Linked DNA regions of Homo sapiens. The protein of the gene in region 2 interacts with the protein of the main gene of each other region in a pairwise test. Each region holds a gene or a part of one and is shown on either strand. Other genes may lie near its edges.

What was found. The genes of interacting proteins can lie anywhere in the genome.
Region 1: the proteins of IDH1 (region 2) and AGGF1 interact in a two-hybrid assay, tested with the Homo sapiens proteins (one large-scale study listed by BioGRID and IntAct).
Region 3: the proteins of IDH1 (region 2) and FAM131A interact in a two-hybrid assay, tested with the Homo sapiens proteins (one large-scale study listed by BioGRID and IntAct).

Annotation. Positions count from the first base shown.
Region 1 is NC_000005.10:77,063,569-77,065,734, forward strand, and holds the end of AGGF1 (angiogenic factor with G patch and FHA domains 1), read left to right. Parts: 3' UTR 1-1,666; downstream 1,667-2,166. UniProt on the Homo sapiens protein: Promotes angiogenesis and the proliferation of endothelial cells. Able to bind to endothelial cells and promote cell proliferation, suggesting that it may act in an autocrine fashion.
Region 2 is NC_000002.12:208,241,572-208,245,071, forward strand, and holds part of IDH1 (isocitrate dehydrogenase [NADP] cytoplasmic), read right to left. Parts: intron 2,034-3,500; coding exon 1,856-2,033; intron 575-1,855; coding exon 423-574; intron 1-422. UniProt on the Homo sapiens protein: Catalyzes the NADP(+)-dependent oxidative decarboxylation of isocitrate (D-threo-isocitrate) to 2-ketoglutarate (2-oxoglutarate), which is required by other enzymes such as the phytanoyl-CoA dioxygenase.
Region 3 is NC_000003.12:184,336,297-184,340,399, reverse strand, and holds the start of FAM131A (protein FAM131A), read right to left. Parts: upstream 2,801-4,103; 5' UTR 2,770-2,800; coding exon 2,682-2,769; intron 2,014-2,681; coding exon 1,871-2,013; intron 1,568-1,870; exon of another isoform or gene 1,420-1,567; intron 1-1,419.

The DNA.
Region 1 (2,166 bases), on a different chromosome or scaffold from region 2:
AATGACTTAAGTGTACATCTGTTCTTGTCTCCATATATTCATGTAAGATGCACAACAAAAGAAACATCAGAAGTTTATAAAAATAAATCTGACTATATGCATCCTCATTTATTCCCTTTAGAACCTAGGTAAAAAATGTTGCGAAAACATGGGTAGTGGCGCATACATTTTGTTATCCTTGAAATAGCCTAAGTAATGTTATTGAAGAACTAATGAACAGGTAACATATTGTAGAAAATTAGTCTTTCATTGTTTTCTTCTGTGAAGAATCTGTTGCTATGTACTGTATATTCAGCATTTATATTTGGTTTGTTTCATAGCTAATGAGGTATTTAGATATGAACAACTGAATACATATTGAAATAGTGTGCTGGCTTTTGTAGTTTTGATAAAGACCATTGCAGGCAATGGAATTGTGCCAGAGAAATCTGATTTCTAGTACAAAAGGAATACTTAGCCAGGGCCTCAAGCTCAAGATACTTATTGAAAACATCCTCAATTGCAATAAAAACATTATAACATGAAAAAGAGTGATTTTTTGAACCGGTGATTTAAATGTATTGATCTGCTTTGAATTTTCAAGCAGCCAGAATTTTCTAGTTTAAATTGGCAGAGTTATAACAAAGGAGAGCCTCAAATATTAGACAATTGCAGTGCGGCTTTCTGGGCACAGGTGTCACTGCTCTGCCACCTATCACTATTCTTTTTCTGTTCAGTTTTTCTCTCAGGTGTTTGCTGGGAAATTAACACTGGAACTGACCCTTTTCTGGCAGTGAATGTAAGCTCTAGCTCCCCCATCTACTATAAAGAAATGTCTTCGAGATGTAGAAATAAGGAATATTCTGAAAATAAAAATTATACAGTAGTAAAGATAATTCAGAAAGAAAAAGCTACCTGTTAGAATTTCCAGTCTAAATGGCACAGGGTAGTTACGGAGAAAAGGGGATGGAGAAGGAGAAACTATGACTAAAGATGAGAGGTATGAACGAGTTGTCAGGTTCCTATGGGCTTAAGCTAGGACAATCAGGCCCTAAACTCCAAATTTGGATAAAATATCTCTTTGCATTCTTCTTGGCCACCTGCATAGTCTGACACATACGTATGTACAGTTAGACTTGCAGGCTGCAGGAGTGCCCTGCATTGTTTTCTTTTAATTAGAAATAAAAAGTATTAGTCTAAATGTGGTTCTGGTGCTGGTGCCCTGTATATATGTAACAATATAGGACCCCTCCAAATAGGTTTTGCTTCTGGTGAATCTTGGTCATTGGGTTAGTATATGACTGTCTATAATATTTTCCATTTGTATTATTATATTGGGGAAAACATTTTTTATCATTTTCTATTAAGAAAATGGAAAACTTAAATATGGTGTTAAAAATGGAAATATATGTGATATTTGCATTATTAAACCCCTTTGCAGATCTAAAGTCTCAGGGTTCCACTATTAGTGGTTAAAGTACTGAATAATGTCTGGGTCTATTTCCATCTGTAAAATAAGAATATTTGTCTCACGTGTCTGTCATGAATAGCAAATGAGAAAATGTATATAAAAGCACTTTGTAAATTGTAAAAGTAGTACAGATGTGAGCTTCTATTTGTTTAGAAGCATAAATGTGAATTATATACAGTTTGAATTTTGCATAAATTTTTTGTGTCTAATTTTAAATATTTGTTTAATCACACTACACATTTTCTGAGTAGCGTTTAAGTATGTATTTTAAGTGGAGCTGCAAGTTCTGAATTTTAAGAAATCTAACATCTAATATTTTTGCCAGAACATAAGCTGGCAAAGTTGAGAACAGAAGAAACTTTCAACATTAGAGTAAAATAGAAATTTTTTCCAGTATTAAATAGAGGAAGCACCCTTATCCTCAAAAAGAGGAACTTTTTTCTGCTTTTGAAACAAGTGTTACTTCTGATGTGTCATTTTTATCCTGCATTTATAGAACGTAATGGTTTACGCAAATCAAAAACCTTCTGACTTTCCATAGAATATTTTTAATTTTTTATGATTTTTATTTATTTATTTTTTTGAGACAGAATCTTGCTCTGTTGCCCAGACTAGAATGCAGTGGTGCAATCTCAGCTCACTGCAACCTCAACCTCCTGGGTTCAAGCGATTTTCGTGCCTCAGCCTCCCAAGTAGCTGGATTACAGGTGCATGCC
Region 2 (3,500 bases):
AGAGGGACATGAGTAGGTCCTGCTGCCCAATAAATGAGCTTTGCAGGCACCAAAGCTTGGTTATGACATGATCAAGCTCCTCACTTTATCCCTCCTTGCCTGAGTGCCCTGGTTTTTTACATTTTCACCAAAGGACAAGGAGGGCAGGGAAAGGGAGTGATTTTCAGATCAGGTAGGCTTTAAAACTTCAAGGAGTGACACTGGAGCCAGGAGTGTCAATCCACTAATTTACTTCCCATGTGGTCTTGAGTAAATCATTTCTCTAGTCTGAGCTTAATTTCCTTAGCTGTCAGGTAAGACGGTGGACCTGGAGGTTTAACATTCCAAGATTTTACAACAAAGGACTACAAAACTCCCCTTCCCAAATTAGAGAACTACCCTGGAATGACCCTGTTCCTACAGGCCAGGCTCCACCTCTGTACCTTGGGCCACAGAGTCCGACTGCACGTCACCATCATAGTTTTTACAGGCCCAGATGAAGCCTCCCTCTGATTTCATAGCTTGGGCCACCATGTCGTCGATGAGCCTATGCTCATACCAGATCTTTTGAGCTTCAAACTGGGACTTGTACTGCCTGGGAAACAAAAGGTAAAAGAGAATAATAATAAAGAAAATTGATTTTGTTAGGGATATCATCTGCTTGTCCCAAACAGAAGACCGGACACACAAGAAGCAGCATATTTTAGTAGAAGTAGCAGAAACTCAGGAATCTGACAGACATTGGCTCAAATCCTAGCCCAATCATTTTCTAACTGTAAAACTCAATTTGACTATCTGTAGGAACAATTTTACCCACCTTGCAGGGAAGCCGTGAGAATTAAGTGAGACAGTAGAGTATCCCAATGACTACTTCACTTTTCAGTTTTCATTATACTATAGATCAGATTCTTGAGATTCAGCTTATTTTTAAAATACATTTTTGAAAAGACTGTTCTACTTCTTGGTGTCATTCAGGAAACTAAAATATATTCCAGACAGTTTCTGGGCTTGGTATAGATGGGCAGCAGGAGGAGGAATCAAAATGCCTCAGGAACATTTTGGCCTGAACACTTGCACCTAAAGGGAGTTATGCCAATCTTAAATATTAACACATGCTCACCTCCTGTGCTGTGGAAGCCAGTGTTGTTATAAACTTAGACTTAAGTTCAAATGACTCCACTAAAACAGAATTTTAAATTCTTTTTTTTCTTTTCTTTTCTTTTTTTTTTTTTGAGACGGAGTCTCGCTCTGTCGCCCAGGCTGCAGTGCAGTGGCGTGATTTCGGCTCACTGCAACCTCCGCCTCCCGGGTTCACGCCATTCTCCTGCCTCAGCCTCCCCAGTAACTGGGACTAGAGGCGCCCGCCACCACGCCCGGCTAATTTTTGGTATTTTTAGTAGAGTCAGGGTTTCACCGTGTTAGCCAGGATGGTCTCGATCTCCTGACCTCGTGATCCGCCCGCCTCGGCCTCCCAAAGTGCTGGGATTACAGGCATGAGCCACCGTGCCTGGCCAACAGAATTTTAAATTCTAACAATGGGCTTCAGAAAGAATGGAAATGGGTCTGACTTAGAAACTCACACATGAAAAATTAGAACTTATCACTAACAGCGTACGTTTATTTAAACATTAAAGAACCTGGCTCTGAAAACAATTCATGTGGGGACCTTATTTAAGAACATGTTTATCTTATAAAAGCAAGTCAGAGTGGTTTTGTTTCACTCCTGCTAAACCTCAGTTTTGCCCTTATCTTTAAGAGACAGTGATGATTTTCACTCAATTTACCCAGAATCATAGGGATAGGGAGATACATACTCTATATGCAAATGTCAGCTTACTTGAGAATAAAGAAAAAGTTAAAAAAGAACTATAGTTACTTGTCATATATCTCCTGAAAGATGTCTTTAAAACGCCCATCATATTTCTTCAGAATAGTGTTTTTGGTGCTCAGATACAAAGGCCAACCCTTAGACAGAGCCATTTGGAAGGAACTGTGTGCAAAATCTTCAATTGACTTATCTTGATTATACATCCCCATGGCAACACCACCACCTTCTGTAGAGGAGAAGCCAGTGAGAGGAAAAAAGGGAGAAGAATAAATGTAATGTAGTTGTAATAAGGCTAAAATCACCCACCACAACCAAATGACCTACTTCTCAGCTCTCACATCTGAGACTAGATTTCAGAAGTCCCAGACAGGTTTCCAACAAATTTCTGAGGCACATAATGAGAGAAAAGCCAGTTCTAGATAAGGACATTCTAACTTGTTTTGGAAGGACAGCAGAAATGAAAAAACATACAGTCTTTAAAATCCTGAAGATGCAGAAATGCCAAAAACTGATATGAACCAGAAATACATTTAAGAAAAGGCAAATAATTTTGAAACTTCTTTTACATACTGATATGGTTTGGATATTTGTCCCTTCCAAATCTCATGTTGAAATGTGATTCCCAGTGTTGGAGGTGGGGCCCAGTGGGAGGAGATTGGAACATGGGGTTGGATCCCTTATGAATGGCTTAGGACCATCCCCTTTGGTGATTACGTGAGTTCTCGCTCAGTTAATTCACTTGAAATCTGGTTGTTTAAGAGTCTGGGACCTCCCCCTTCTCTTTCTCTTGTTCCCGCTCTTGCCATGTGATACACCTATTGTCTGTTTGCCTTCTGCCAAGATTGGAAGCTTCCTGAGGCCCTCACCAGGAACAGGTGTTGGAGCCAGGCTTGTACAGCCTGCAGAACCATGAGCCAATTAAACCTCTTTTCTTTATAACTTACGCAGCCTCAGGTATTTCTTTATAGCAACGCAAGAATGGACAAACACCCTACCTTTACAATTCCCAACATCTATTTTAAACTTTAGGGGTGTACTCAATCCTCAGTTATTGAGAAAAACTTAAATTTCAAATACTGAATGAAAATTCTTATAATCTCCTGGAGGATACTGAGCACTCCTACTGTAGTTGGTAGAAATAAGTAGAAATAATTATGCTACATGTAATCACTGTGTTTTACAACTATTATTGAACTTTGTTATTACTTAAAGATAGAACTTGAATCCATGCCAATGCTCAGGGTTAACTTGGGTTCAGGGTGAAAGGTGCTGAAGCCTGCAGAACCAGATTCCAACAGATATTATTTGGAAGAGGCAAGAAAAACAAAAGGTAGGTGAGTGTTGGGTATTTTTGTTTGTGTGAGTGCTTTCAACAACTTCAATAGTGAAGGAAAAGGGCCCACTAATTATTTCAACAACTTTTGGGTGGGATTTGCCATCAAAGGTAGCAGGGTAGCTGGGAAAGAAAAGGCAAAAAGCAAATGTTCTACTTTTTCACAGGATAAATACCCAGAAGGGCAAGAAGAAAACTTCAGCAAATATATAAGGAAACCTCTTCCAGATACAAGAGCCCTACCAGAGCAAAGGGCAGGATTATATGCTGGGTGATTTGAGAATATTAATATTTAATGTATATAATTCATGCACAGCAGATTTCTGCCAACCTTCTCTCTGTGCTTTAAGATAAATGCAT
Region 3 (4,103 bases), on a different chromosome or scaffold from region 2:
GCGGTGAGCCGAGATCGCACCACTGCACTCCAGCTTAGGCTACGGTGCAAGACTCCATCTCAAAAAAAAAAAAAAAAAAAAAAAATGCATAGGCTGGGCCAGGCGTGGTGGCTCACGCCTGTAATTCCAGCACTTTGGGAGGCCAAGGGGCCAAGGTGGGTAGATCATCTGAGGTCAGGAGTTTGAGACCAGCCAGGCCAACATGGTGAAACCCCATCTCCACTAAAAATAATTTAAAAAATGGGCAGGGCATGGTGGCGGGTGCCTGTTATCCCAGCTACTCAGGAGGCTGAGGCAGGAGAATTGCTTGAACCCAGGAGGCGGAGATTGCAGTGAGCCAAGATTGTGCCACTGCACTCCAGCCTGGGCGACAGAAAAAGACTCTGTCTCAAAAACAAGCAAACAAAAATGCAAAGGCTGGATGAATGAGGTAAGATATAATGTAAACAGTTTTCCTGGAGTGCAGCTGGTCACAACACATCTCTAAAATCTTGTCTAGCCTACGCTACTGTCCAGTGAGGTTAGTGCAGGCATCATACCCAGGCCCTGAAGGATCCCACTCTGTGACACCCTTGCCTCCTTCCAAGCCTCCTTTGAATCCACTGCTGATCTCCTCTGCCCAATAAAACCCCCCTTCTCAGGCCGGGCGCAGTGGCTCACGCCTGTAATCCCAGCATTTTGGGAGGCCGAAGCAGGCGGATCACCTGAGGTCGGGAGTTGGAGACCAGCCTGGCCAACATGGTGAAACCCCGCCTCTACTAAAAATACAAAATCAGCCGGGCGTGGCAGCGCATGCCTGTAATCCCAGCTACTCTGGAGGCTGAGGCAGGATAATCGCTTGAACCCCAGAGGCAGAGGCTGCGGTGAGCCGAGATCGCACCATTGCATTCCAGCCTGGGCAACAAGAGCGAAACTCCGTCTCAAATAAATAAATACATAAAAATAAATAACAAAAAACAAAAACCCTTCTCCACCAATCCCTGTCAGCAAGCAGCCCGCCTGCCTCCAGGAAAAGGAACTCAGCTTTCCTCTGGGCCAAGAATGCCATCCTTACGTGAAAAAATGCTTGCCATCACTTAAGGCCCATCTCAAGTGTCACCTGCAAATAATGCTTTCAGCCGACAGCCTCTTCTTTTCTCTGACACACCCCGCCCCCATCATTGCCCTTGTCTGTCTCCCGAGGGAGCTCAGGATGGCAAGGCCTAAGTCTGATGCACGTAAGTTCCTAACTCCACCCTGTACCTGGCTCAGGGCTCCCTGACAAGCCCCAGCAAATGTTTCCCTCACTTAATGAAGTTGGAGGCACACATCCCTCCCCGGCATTGCCCAGCTCTCTTCTATCACGTTCCCGTCCCTCACAAGGGCAGCCAACACTGCCCCTTGACCTGAGGCCCACCCTCGATCCCTCCCCTTGGGTACCTGGCTGACAGGGCCCCCAGGGTGGCGCCAGTAGCCTCCAGCCAGGCCTAGGCGGGGGAGCACCTGCTGGGTGTTTCTTAGCTTGCTCTCCCTCCCTCGCTTCGCTCCCCTCAGCCGCCGCCATCCGTGCCCGGCGCTCCGCGCAGCTGCGGCCCAGGCCCAGAGAAAAGGTGTATGTCTCCCTGGCAACCCATCACCACGCAACAGGGTCTCCCGGGATACGGCCCGGGATGCGCTGACGTCAGCGCGGAAGGCGCGAGCTCTCCGCCTGCTGGCACAGCGCCGAGCAGAGCAGACCGGCACGGGGGCGGCCTCCCGGCCCGCCGCCGGATAGCGCCTCCGCCCGCCGGAAAAGGGAGCCAGAAGCTGGCTGGCCAGGCGTGGGTGGGGGCTGCAGATCCCCTTTATATGGATGACGTCCTCCTTCCCCCCACCACCAGGGGCCCAGCACCTCTGGCAAGTCCTGACTGTCCACCGAGGAAGGGCGGGAGGACCTGCTCCAGCCTCGGAGGGTTCGAGCAGATCCCAAAGAGGATAGAGAGAGACCCCGAGGAAGTTCGATCCACTCCACAGCCCAAGCGGGGTCCGAGGACACTGAGAGGAAGGGGAAAGGCTGTTGAGCTGTGCCCCTACTTCTGCAGAGATCCCCATTTTCATCCAGTATTGCCGTATCATTTCTCGGCCCCTCCCCCACCTTCCAGAAGACCAGCGCCCACTGAGTGCTCTCCTCAACTCTAAAAGCCCCCATCCCACACATCACTGACCCTCGGGCCCCTGGGGCCATTCTGTGGCAGCCCACTTGCCACCTTCCTGCTCTGGATAAATTTTGCCTCAAAACCCTAGGGTGAAACCAAACAATGATAAATTCTGACTCTCCTTCCCGTTTCCCAGCCTACCCATTCCTCTTGGAAAGCACACTGAGTTCTTCCGCCATCACTGTCCCCCCCACCACCGCCACCCTGGACCCTTTGCAGGAGGGTTGCCTTCCTTCTCTCTTCCTGCTGCCTTCTTTCCTCTCGCCAGCCTCAGCTGGTCCACAGCTCTTTACTCTTCTTTTCTGACGAACTCATGATATTTTTTCTGATTTTCACCCCTGTCCCCTGAAGCCGTTTCCTGATGCCCTGTCTGGCCCCAGCCTGGTTCTCCCTGTTTCAGCCTGGTTCTTAATATCTAAGCCAGAGTAATTTTCCTTTTCCACCTAAGCACCCTACTGCTCAGCTTCCCATCATCTCCCAGATCACATCCATGATCCCTGGTCTCACCTCTGCGACTTGTCTGACAAGTCCATCGTCCTCCAGGCCCTTCACGCTGCCACAGAAACATTTTGCCCAGCACAGAAATCATAGGCATGCTGGCTGTGTTGATGCAGAGAACCAAAAGCCCAGAACCGCTCCAGGCTCAGCTCCCAGTTCTATTCCTGTTTTGGCTCCGGATGCTGAGCCAGTCCCCTCCCCATTTGGAACCTGTGCCTAGTCACATAAGGAGAACATTCCTGCCTCATGGCTCTGAGGAGGTGGGAACACCAGGGCTCAGCCAAGCTCTCTGGGACTCGGGGAGCTGAGGCCCATTCCCTAGACAGTGCCAACAGGCAATGTACATCACAACTGACCTTTAGCTGGAGCAGCCGTCTCTATCCCTGAGCCTCGGCCAGCTGTTGGTCCCCAGAAATGCTACCAACCAGAAGGAAAACAGGAGGTTACAGGCCATCCCTGGCCCCCAACTGGTACCTAACCAGGGCTCTCGAGGCCAGTCCTGAGGTCAGCCAAACTCACCCCTGACAAGAGAAGGTGATGACTTCCTGAACTCCAAGCCTTGATAGGGCCAGAGAGATCAGAGCAGTCAGCTGCTCCTCAGCTTCAAAAGCCACGAGGTTAACTTAGGACTACAAATCCCAGAATTCCTCAAGGGAAGTACAAATCTCAGCCAGTCTTAGCTCCAAAGAACATCAAGTACCAACCACACCAAGGCCTGTGTGACTGACCACCTGCCCTGAAGGTCCAGGACCCATCCCAAACCCAGTCCTGCCTTGCCTTATGCGTGGAGAAATCCACCACACCGGAGTAAAGGAAGCTGGCCGACCTCTGATGCACAGGACTACGGCCAGGCCCGGTGTGCATGGCCACCCACGGAAACCGAGGCCCAGGCAGGGGTCAGCACTGTGGGAAGGAAGCCCTGATGGCCTGCCTCTGGGTTCCTCTTTCCCTCCACAGAGTAGAGTGATTTGTTTTTGCTGAGTGGGGGCAGGACATTAAAACAACTGTAATAGGTGAGAGGTGATTCAGTGTTCACAGGTGCCCCAAACGGGACCTCAGTCCCCCTTCGCCGACTGACTGAAGAGGGGAGTCAATGTCCGACAAAAATTCTGTGGTAGGGTGCTTAGCCAGGACCGAAAGGCTACCTCTTTAAGAAGATGGGGACACGGCTGGGAGAAGCAGGTTCCCAGCACAGGGCCACTCCCAGGACTGTGAAGGCAGAGGTGTAGGCGGAGGGGAGTGTGTGTGTGGGCGCGCAAGGCCAGTCGCCGAGGGCTGGAGTGGTGGGGGCATCGGGCTGCCCAGCCCCTCCCGGGGCTGTGCGTCTCCGGCCACCCTGAGCAGTGGGCACACGGCAGCCAGCGGCGAGACCATGCGTCTGCCCTGCAAAACCCCAAGGCAGGCAGGCCGTGGGAGCGAACCGGAGTCGGT